2 separate regions of the Homo sapiens genome follow, and region 2 is linked to region 1. Evidence: fine-mapped expression QTL. A gene starts in region 1. The other region holds a variant in brackets. All regions are shown on one strand. Distances are from middle to middle.

Region 1 (5,375 bases):
AAAGAACACCTAAATAAATGGAAAGACATCCCATGTTTATGGATTGGGAGATAATTATTGTTAGGATGAAAATAGGCCCCAAATTGATCTACCAATTGAACACAATCCTGATCAAGAATCTCAGCCTTCTTTGCAGAAATTGACAAGCTGGGCCGGGTGTGGTGGCTCACACCTGTAATCCCAGCACTTTGGGCGGCCAAGGCAGATGGATTACTTGAGGTCAGGAATTCAAGACCAGCTTGGCCAACATGGTAAAACCCTGTCTCTATTAAAAATACAAAATTAGCCAGGCATGGTGGTGCATGCCTGTAATCTCAGCTATTTGGGAGGCTGAGGCAGGAGGTAGAGGTTGCAGTGAGCCAAGATCATGCCACTGCACTCCATCCTCAGCAACAAGAGCAAAACTCTGTCTCAAAAAAACAAAAAACAAAAAAAAAAAAAAAAGAGAAAGAAATTGACAAGCTAAGCTGACGCTAAAATCCATATTGAAATACAAAGGATCAAATAAATCTGGAGAAAGAAGAACAAAGTTGGAGGATGTGCACTTCCTGATTTCAAAATTTATTACAAAGCTGTATTAATCAAATCTGTGTAGTTTGTAGACAGATATACAGATAAATGTAGATAGACATACAGATCAAGAGAATAGAACTGAGAGTCAAAAATAAACCCTTGCATCTATAGTGAACTGATTTTCGACAAGGAGGCCAAGACAATTTGATGAGGGAAAGAATAGTCTTTTTAACAAATGGTGTTAGGACAACTGGATATCCACATGCAAAGGAATAAAGTGATATGCCTTTCTCACACCATATACAAAAATTAGCTCAGAATGAGTCAAAGACTTAAATGTAAGAGTTGAAACTACAAAACTCTTAGTAGAAAATATAGGTGAAAATCCCCATGATTGAAAAATATCTAGTATTTGATAGCACAACAGGGTGACTGCAGTCAGCAATAATTTGTTGTACCTTCAAAAATAACTGAGGAAGTACAATTGGAATGTTCATGACAGAAATGATGAATGCTTGAGGTGATGGAAACCCCATCTACCCTCCTGTGATGATTACATCGTATGCCTATATGAAAACATCTCATATACCTCATAAATATGCTAATTATGTACCCATAAATTTTTTTTTAAATCCTCATGACCTTGGATTACACAATGATGTCTTAGATATGATATAAAAAGACAGGCAACAAAAGAAAAAAACTACACTTCAAAATTAAAACGTTTTGCTTCAAAGGACACCAGCAAGAAAGTAAAAACCCACAGAATGGGAGAAAAATATTTGCAAATCATGGATCTGACAAGGACTAGTATAGGCTATATAAAGAACTACAACTACTCAGTTGGCCGGGCGCGCGCGGTGGCTCATGCCTGTAATCCCAGCATTTAGGGAGGCAAGGCGAGAGGATCACTAGAGGCCGGAAGTTCAAGACCAGCCTGTGCAACAGACTCCCGGCTCGAATTTTTTATAAAAAGTGATATAGGAATGAAAAGTACCAGCTGAACTAGGAAAGGGGAAGTTGACAGTAAGGAGGGACTATCAGGGGCAGGAGGATACTGGGTAGTGGTGGTTTAATTCATTGTTTTAATTGTGGTGATGGCTGCATGGTTGTATACATAGGTCAAAACTTAACGCGTACACTTTAAATGTGTGGTTTATTGTATGCCAGTTATAACGCAATATAGCTGTTAAACACAAACACAATAAAGTTGAAAAACCAGCAGGCATTCCCTGATTAATCAGTATTCTGGGGAGGTAAGGGGCTCACAGGAACGCAAAAGAAATTCAGGCTGTAAATCCAGTTGGACGCCCCGCTGCCCCATCCCCTCCATCCGGGACCGCCCGACTCCTCTCCCACCTCCTTCCCCAGGCCTCCCCCAGGCCTCCAGTCCGGAAGATGCGACGAGGTTAGCGGGGCCCGACCACTCCTTGGCTTCCCAGGGGTGAGCCTCGCGAGTTAGGAGTTGGGTAGAGAGTCAGCCCGGGGCCCGGCATCCGCTTTTTCGTTGAAGCAACGACTTTGGCCGGATGACTCCCCAGGGTCGGCATCAGCGTGGGACTGGGAACAGGTGAAGGGAAACAGAAGAGAGCCTGAGAAGACCGCTCTCCTCCGATCCTAATTGACTGAGCCAATGAGAGCCAAAGAGGTCACATGCTCAACTGGGCGGGGAGCGGGTTTCCACCTGCGGCATCTTTCGCGAGCGGGGAGATGAGTGGGGCGGAATATGGGAGAAAGGGAGGGCCCGCCACGCTCTGGCTGGACACGGCCTTAATCGGCCCGTTCACTCGACGTTTTTGGTTCTACGTTGACCCCGAGAAACCGAAACCGCAGGGCCTAGGGCGGGTGGAACGAGAGGGAACTACATTTCCCAGCAGGCTGCGGAAACGGGACTGCGGCCACTACTTCCGGCGTGTACCGAGAGACTGGCGTCCGGCGTGTACCGAGAGACTGGCGTCCGGTGTGCAGGTGGCCACATGGATCCTGGCAGCCGGTGGCGGAACCTGCCCAGCGGGCCTAGCCTAAAGCACTTGACTGACCCCTCTTATGGAATCCCGCGGGAACAGCAAAAGGCAGCGTTGCAGGAGCTGACGCGGGCGCACGTGGAGTCCTTCAACTACGCTGTGCACGAGGGTCTCGGCCTCGCGGTGCAGGTGAGCGCGGCGTCCGCCGGCGCCCTTGCCGCGGCGAGGCCAATCCCAGGGAGGTGGCTGGGAGGTCACAGTATGACCCCAGATGCATGTGCTCCTTGATCCTGACAGGCTTGGTGGGTAAGCGGGAGAGCACAACATGTTAAACAGGACGCGGTACTGGCCTTCGTGAGACTTGGAGTCGAGGCGTCTTAAGAGATGTATTCGTGATTCTGGAGTGAAAAGTGATTGTGAACCGTAGTTTGGACAGTTTCGGGGTGCTGTGAGAGTGAGGAAGTGGCTTATCTGGGGATGTGCTTCACAATGCACACGGCTTTATATCACTTGAAGACTTACCTCTCCAAAACGTACCTCGAAAGATCCCGAACGTATTTGTAGGTACAGTGTAATGTTCAAGGTTATCCTTCAGTTTCCTTCTCTTAGAGCTTTAAAGAGAGAAACTACTCGTCATTTGTTATGAATTAAGCAGGTGCCGAGGAAGGTATAAATGAGTCATGAAAGCAAGATTGAATCGAAAAGTGTAATTGCATTATTAGCGTAGAGTAATGGTAGCAGAATTCAAGTGAGTATGGTGGGGGAAAGCTTCGTTTAGTAAGCATCCCCAGTGTCTCCAGGCACTAGGCTCAGAGGATGTGGAGGAGGCAGTCCCGTGTACGAGACAGTTCATGCATTTAAGTGCTCCCTGTCGTGTTTGGGGGTTGAAGGGGTGAAGATAATGAAAGCAGTGCATGCCAATGTTCTTGAGAACTGCTCTGCCAAGGGATTGTGTGGGCTACTGCGGGAGCCTATGGGCGGCGCAACTAATCCAGGAGTTTGAGAAAGGGCAGGATTAGATGAGTTCAAGAAGTGAGAAACGTGCATTTCGTCCAGGGGAAGAGTAGAGCAGAGTCACATGCTTCGGGGACCCTACCTGTGGTTTTGTTGGGTAAGATTTGTGTTGTGGGAGATAGGGATACAGATAATGTGGAGAGCTTTGATTGCCAGTCTGATTCTTGAACTCTATTCGGCAAATAATATGGGAGCCATTAAGATTTATTGTTTAGAAAGACTAGAGGGGTGGGGGTTATTTGTATTGTGCCTGGATTGTTACAGTATCATGTCTGTGAGAAAAAATTCCTAATTAAAAGTTAATCGGGCTGGGTGCAGTGGCTCACACCTGTAATCCAGGACTTTGGGAGGCCAAGGCAGAAGGATGACTTGAGCCCAGGATTTCAAGACCAGCTTGGATAACATAGTGAAACCCCATCTCCACAAAAATTTAAAAATTAGTGGGGCATGGTGGTGCGCACCCAAGTAGCTGGTCCCAGCTACTCGGGAGGCTGAGGTGGGAGGATAAGTTGAACCCAGGAATTTGAGGCTGCAATGAGCTATGATTGTGCCGCTGCACTCCATCCTCGGTAACAGAGTGAGACCTGTCTTTAAAAAAAAAAAATCCAATTGAGAAATTTTAGAAAAGCACTAATTTAAAAATAAGCCAGTCGGCTGGGTGTGGTGGCTCTTGACTGTAATCCCTGCACTTTGGGAGGTCAAGGCGGGTGGATCACTTGAGGTCAGGAGTTCCAGACCAGCCTGGCCAACCTGGTGAAACCCCATCTCTACTAAAAAATACAAAAATTAGCCGGGCATGGTGGCACATGTCTGTAATCCCAGCTACTCAGGAGGCTGAGGCACGAGAATCGCTTGAACCTGGGAGGCGGAGGTTGCAGTGAGCCAAGATTGCACCACTGCATTCCAGCCTGGGTGACAGAGTGAGACTCTCCCAAAAAAATAAATACATAAATAAATAAACCAATTATATGTTAACATTTTTAAGAAAAATATTTTCCAAAGCAAAAAAGAAGTTAGATGAATTGCATTATTAAAAATCTTTTTAATGTCTGGCTTAATGAAAAGACAGCTGGATTCTCATGTCTGCTTGTGCATTCAGTCCCTTGTGATAATTGTTTTGGTTGAAGTAGATGAAGAAAATTTGGCCCTGCATAGAAAATGATGCCACAACTTAGCTAGGACTATAATAATATAGTATTTGAAAAAGTTCTGTAAAACACAGTAACATAAATAACTAATACTTATAAAGCCAAGGGAAAAAATAGTTATCATATTTTTTACTTACAAAACATAATTTTGCCAAGTTTCTTTGGAGTGAATTCCTCCTTTCTGTGAGTCAGAATTTATGTGTCTGTCTTTTCAAAATACAATTGATTTTTATTACTTGGGGATTCCATATTTGCAAATTCACCTACTCACTAAAATTTACTTCTACTCCAAAAGCACCATGCCCAGAAGCAGCAAAAAAGTTGAGTTGCTCAGTGTCCATTTTCCCAGCTGAGATCTAACAAGGTGATGCTCGGCCTTCTTGTTTTAAGTTCTTAAACTATAAACAGAGGTTGTCTTCACTATCTATTTAGTGCCGTGTTTTGTGCTTTTTGTTGGTGATTTTGCTGTTTAAAATGTCCCCCAAGCAAAGTATTAAAGTATTAAAGTTCTGTATAAAGTTCCTAAGCACAAGAAGGCTGTGCTGTGCCTTTAGGGGAAAATATTAATACATGCATTTAACATAGGCTTTGTTCAGGCATGCGTTAGGGACTCAATAATATATATTAGATAAGCTGTCCTTAAACAGAAACCCACATAATGCAAGGTTGTGTATTGATCAGTGGATGAAATCATAGGCTTTGTTCAGGCATGAGTTACGGACTCAATAATATGTAT
Region 2 (5,375 bases), 47 kb after region 1:
AGTCTAAAATGACTCCTTGAGGAGAGGCAGTAACGGAAAAAGGTTGAAAAATGCTCTTTTAGATGTTTACTACCCTCCTCACTGGACTGTGAGCTCCAAAGGTGAAAGTCACATCTTTCCCCAGCCCCTGTGAGTACCCTCTCCTGGGGCCCTCTCTCTGCCCCTGCAGCCCTGGCTTCTCTCTTGGGCCACCTGGCCATCCTTCTCCTGGGCCCCATGCTCCATCTTGACTTTCCAGTCATTCTTGGTGATCATCCTAGACTGATCTCAGAGGAAATCTGACCATGTTCTGCTTCTACTTACAAACCTTTCCATGGTTCTCAATTCCACCAGCCCAAGTCTTAATGCCAGCACAGCCCACAGGGCCCTGTGGGATGCAGTCCCTGCGACCCGTGGTCCCACCTCTCCTCTCTTTCCCCCTTAAGCTCTATGTTCCAGCCCCAGTGAACATGCAGTTACTCAAGTGCACGTCTCCGCTGCTTTTGTCCAGCTGTTTCCCTCTGCTGGGACTGCCCTTCCTAATCCATCTCCTGGCTAATTCCTATTCCAGCTTAGACGGCACGTCTCTCAGAAAACCTCCCTGATGTCCCACCCACTTCCCGCCCCTGTCTTCAAGTTCCCAAGGTCCCTGAGCCCCTCCATCAAGGCTCACATCCTATGCCTGTGTCAAGGGAGCTCTTGGCTGAAGATTGGGGTGATGCCCTTCTTACCAGGCCCTATAGGCATTAATTGTTTCTGTAAGGCAAGGATAAGTGAATAGTTCAGACCCCTAGGGCAGAAACTACGACCCCTGAGAGCCGGAAGGAACTTAATTCTCCTCAGGAAACGTTACCTAACGATCACATACTGTTCTCAGTCAGCTGCTGGGGACATTTCTGTCTTTCAAGTTTTTTGGGCATCTGAACAGTAAAGACCCCATCCTCCTATCTTAGAGCCATTTGCTGCTTCCCTCCCTGGACCAGCAACCAGCCTCTCTCTGGTCTCCTTGTGGCCACCCCTGCCCTGACAGTCTTCTCTTCCCTGGCAGCCAAAGAAGCTTTTAAAAATGGGAATTAGGGCCGGGTGCGGTGGCACATGCCTGTAATCCCAGCACTTGGGGAGGCCGAGGTGGGTGGATCACCTGAGGTCAGGAGTTTGAGACCAGCCTGGCCAACATGGTGAAACCCCATCTCTACTAAAAATACAAATATTAGCCAGGTGTGGTGGCAGGTACCTGTAATCCCAGCTACTTGGGAGGCTGAGGCAGGAGAATTGCTTGAACCCAGGAGGCAGAGGTTGCAGTGAGCCAAGATTGCACCATTGCACTCTAGCCTGGGCGATAGAGCGAGACTCTGTCTTCCAAAAAAAAAAAAAAAAGGGAATTAGGTCACATCTCCTCATCATCCCCTCCTTCCTGGGGATGGCATCCCAGTTACAGTTTTTCCTTCCTAGCTAGGGGCAGTGAGATTTGTTGTCTGGTCTACACAATAGCGAACACAAACATTCTCATCTCCTGCAGCATGGCATACAGACTTTACAGAATGTCCTGTGTTTTTGTGGCTGACAATCAAAGTGGTACATGTCCCTCCCATTCCGCACACACCTCTGCTCTTTACCCTGATTAAATTTTCTTCATCGAATTTCTTGGATGTTGACATATTTATTGTCCGTCTCTCCCTGCTTGAGTCAGAGAGTTTTGCCTGCTGGGTACACGGCAGGTGCTCAGTAAATATAGCAGAATGGCGCGTTCCCTGCCTCCCATGACACTTCACCACAGCTGACTTTTTCACATGGCTCAGGGCCAAGGTCATTGCCCAACACCCTTCTCCCTCCAGACTGTGGGCTCTGCAGGGTCTCCCTCTGTGGTGTCTACATAGGCTCCCCAGGCTGGGCACAGAGGAGGTGCTACTAGATGTTGATGTACTTTCTCCACAGGCACAGCCACTTCCTGCCTCCTGAGGACTCCTCTGACGGCAGGAAAACTGGACATGAATGACTGCCCCCACGCCCCTCCCCTGCAGAGTGGCCAGATGGAGTCCTGAGCCCTGGACATGGGCCCGGCTTTCCTGGATATCAGGACTTCCAATAAATAAAGACTCTGTATACTGGGCTTTGATTCCTGCCATCCGTACCTGAGAGGGTCCTAGGAGAGCTGGCTGGGCAGAGTCATCTGTTCCCCAGCTTCACCGGGTGTGCCAAGGAAGTGCCTGGGAAGAACAGGACTCTGCAGCTGTGCCCCAGGGTTGAGACTACCCTGCCTCCCTTGTGAACTCTGCCACACAGCCATTTCCTGACTTCTGCTGCATGTGCCTGGGGTAAAGACCCTCAATCCCTTCCACTCTAGCATTCCCCAAATTGTTATTTTTTTTTAATATATATATTTTTTATTTTATTTTTATTTTTATTTTTTTTTGAGACAGAGTCTCGCTGTCGCCCAGGTTGGAGTGCAGTGGCACGATCTCGGCTCACTGTAGGCTCCGCCCCCCGGGGTTCGTGCCATTCTCCTGCCTCAGCCTCCCTAGTAGCTGGGACTACAGGCGCCCGCCACCTCGCC[T/C]GGCTAATTTTTTTTTTTTTTTTTTTTAGTAGAGACAGGGTTTCACCGTGTTAGCCAGGATGGTCTCGATCTCCTGACCTCGTGATCTGCCCACCTCGGCCTCCCAAATTGCTGGGATTACAGGCGTGAGCCACCACGCGCAGCCTATATATATATTTTAAAGACAACGTCTTGCTCTGTTGCCCAGGCTGGAGTACAGTGGTGCGATAATAGCTTACTGCAGCCTCGAACTCCTGGGCTCCAGTGATCCTCTGCCTCAGCCTCCACAGTAGCTAGCACTACCGTAAGCACTTGACACAGTGCCTGGCTGCATTCTCCAAATCTGTTTTCAGTTTTCTGGAGGCTTGGGGGGTGATAAATAATATGCGTCTTTCCCTGCTGAATTCAGAATCAACTGGGCAACAGAGGCATTAGGCAATGGAGATGAAAATACTGGCTTTATTATTGAAAACAACCACATGGAAGGATGTATGGCTTAGAAGGCCATGTACTGGATTTCTTTTCTTTCTTTCTTCTTTTTTTTTTTTTTTTTTCAAGACGGAGTTTCACTCTTGTTGCCCAGGCTGGAGTGCAATGGCGTGATCTCGGCTCACTGCAACCTCTGCCTCCTGAGTTCAAGCAATTCTCCTGCCTCAGCCTCCTGAGTAGCTGGGATTACAGATATCCGCCACCATGCCTGGCTAATTTTTGTATTTCTAGTAGAGATGGGGTTTCACCATGTTGGTCAGGCTGGTCTCAAACTCCTGACCTCAGGTGATCTGCCCGCCTCAGCCTCCCGAAGTGCTGGGATTACAGGCACCGGCCGCCATGCCCGGCTAATTTTTGTATTTCTAGTAGAGACGGGGTTTCACCATGTTGGTCAGGCTGGTCTGTAACTCCTGACCTCAGGTGATCTGCCCACCTCAGCCTCCCAAAGTGCTGGGATTATAGGTGTGAGCCACCGCTTCTGGTCTATGCACTGGATTTCTGTTCTTAGTTTCCAGTTTTCCAGAAGCCAACTCAGAATTTGAGTGCAGATGGTAATTTGAATTTGATTCCAGAAACACTGATAGAGGAATGGAGAAGGGAGACAATAGAGAGGAAGGCAGCCAATAAAAGGTGCATTATCAAGCGAGTTACCACTCTGGGCAACTGGGACTCAGTCCCACTGGGGACCTGTGGGGGACTTTATAGAACATAACCCAGTTACCCTATCAAGGAGCAAGGGAATTGTGTTATCTACCAACTTCCCATCTGTCATTAAGGGGTATTTTCATGGGCATTGACTGGTACTTCTGGCCTGCCCTTTATAGGCCAAGTTCACTTCTGCCATCAGAAGAGGGCCGTAAGCAGAGTATAATGGGATCAAGTGAGCAGCCTTAAACCTGCGGAAGAGATGCTGAGTGGATCTGGGCAGGTACCAACAGTGGCTGCTGTGGCTTCTTCATGCTTCTCAGGAATACAGGCTCCTGCTGTTTGATACAGGCTCCCCAGTAGGGACTGGTCCTAAAGAATAGAAAGCAGACAGGCGTGTATGCAATAGAGGAGGAGACCCCAGAGTGCTGAGCTGAGCATGCCCATGGCCTGCACCCACATTCACCATTCAGACGAGGCCCTCCTCCCTGGAGGTGATCCCAAACCTCTGGAAATTGGAGTAACTGGCCATTTGATACCCAAGGATTATGCTCGGCTTGGAAGAATGAGCCTGGCCTATGGGAGTCTCTCCTAGGGATTAATCTCCAAGACAAAGGAAGTTGTTCATTGGTTTAGGAGCCGGGTAGAAATCCTGTAAGTTCAGGGTTGCAAGATTTTATACCATTTGTCTGAGCTAGGAGGAAACCCAGGTAGTGGAGAGAGAATTGTGATCAGTTCCTGTAACCTGCCACAATCCCTGGTGGACTGAAGAAAGGGTGGCGAATGCAGGAATAAAAGACAAGAGACAAAAGAGTATATTTGGAAGAAGGGGTCAGGGGGCACCTTGCCTCTAGTGGACAAGGGCCCTGAGCTTTACACAGCTTTCTGTATTTATTAGGCAAAAGAGATAGCGAGAAGGCAGGTAGAAGAAGAGGTCAGCTTGTCCAGAGTAGGCTTGCAAGACTGCATTCCCTAGATGTCGCAGTAGATAACCTCAAGGAGCTCGGCGCCAGGAAGCGACTGCCCTCATCAAACCTTCTGGGGCAGGCACAGAAGTGAGTTTGTCCACATTCTGTATTAATGGTAAACAGTTTGCTGTTTGATCATATAGCCCCAGTGGAATGCTGAGTTGGTCACATCCCACAGGCCTTTGGCTCCCTGCAAGTTCCTGTCCCTGAAAGGGTCTGGATCCTGGTGGCTTTTTGTTTCCATCTCTAGTTTCCATGGGCTGTGGTGGATGTTTTCAGCCCACTCCACTTGCTTGAGTAAGCTTGAGTGGGGTTCTATGCCATGCAACTAAAAGAAGTGTGATTAAAACAGACAAAATGGAGATCCAGACTACACTTTAGAACATCTCTATGTGTCCTGTCTTACAATAGGCTAGACTAGCTTCTTTATATGATGGTCTCAGGGGTCCAAGAGAGTGAAAATGGAAACTTCAGACATCACTTTTACCACATTCTATTGGTCAAAGCAGTCATGAGCCCAGCTGAGATTAAAGAGATGGGGAGACTTTACTTCTTGATAGCATTTGGCTGCAAAAAAATTGTGCCTATATTTAAATTACTGCAACAACTTCATAGTGTTTCTTCTTGTGTCAGTTTTGATATTTGAAGGTGGGGGTCTTTGGGAGGTAATTAAGATTAGACAAGGTCATCAGGGTGGGGCCACCATGATGGGACTGGTGGTTTTATAAGAAAAGGAAAAAAGACCTGAACTGGTCTGCTCT

What was found. PIP is the estimated chance that this variant, and not a neighbour inherited with it, causes the effect.
Region 2: its variant is the best candidate, but not a certain one, in a credible set for the expression of POLR1B in testis (GTEx, PIP 0.75).

The regions. Positions count from the first base shown.
Region 1 is chr2:112,540,006-112,545,380 of GRCh38, forward strand. POLR1B (RNA polymerase I subunit B) reads left to right here and starts at 2,460. Exons shown (of 15, transcript NM_019014.6): 1 at 2,460-2,666. The coding sequence starts at 2,490. It overlaps TTL (tubulin tyrosine ligase), which reads left to right. Exons shown (of 7, transcript NM_153712.5): 7 at 1-1,734. It overlaps LOC105373562 (a long non-coding RNA gene), which reads right to left and starts at 2,207. Exons shown (of 2, transcript NR_136321.1): 1 at 2,198-2,207; 2 at 1,651-2,073. RefSeq lists an enhancer at 2,343-2,492.
Region 2 is chr2:112,586,952-112,592,326 of GRCh38, forward strand. CHCHD5 (coiled-coil-helix-coiled-coil-helix domain containing 5) reads left to right here. Exons shown (of 4, transcript NM_032309.4): 4 at 1,915-2,089. The coding sequence ends at 1,938. Among named protein-coding and RNA genes, the nearest start is that of CHCHD5, 5.0 kb to the left of the region's middle. The variant T/C (reference allele first, on the strand shown) is at 2,534.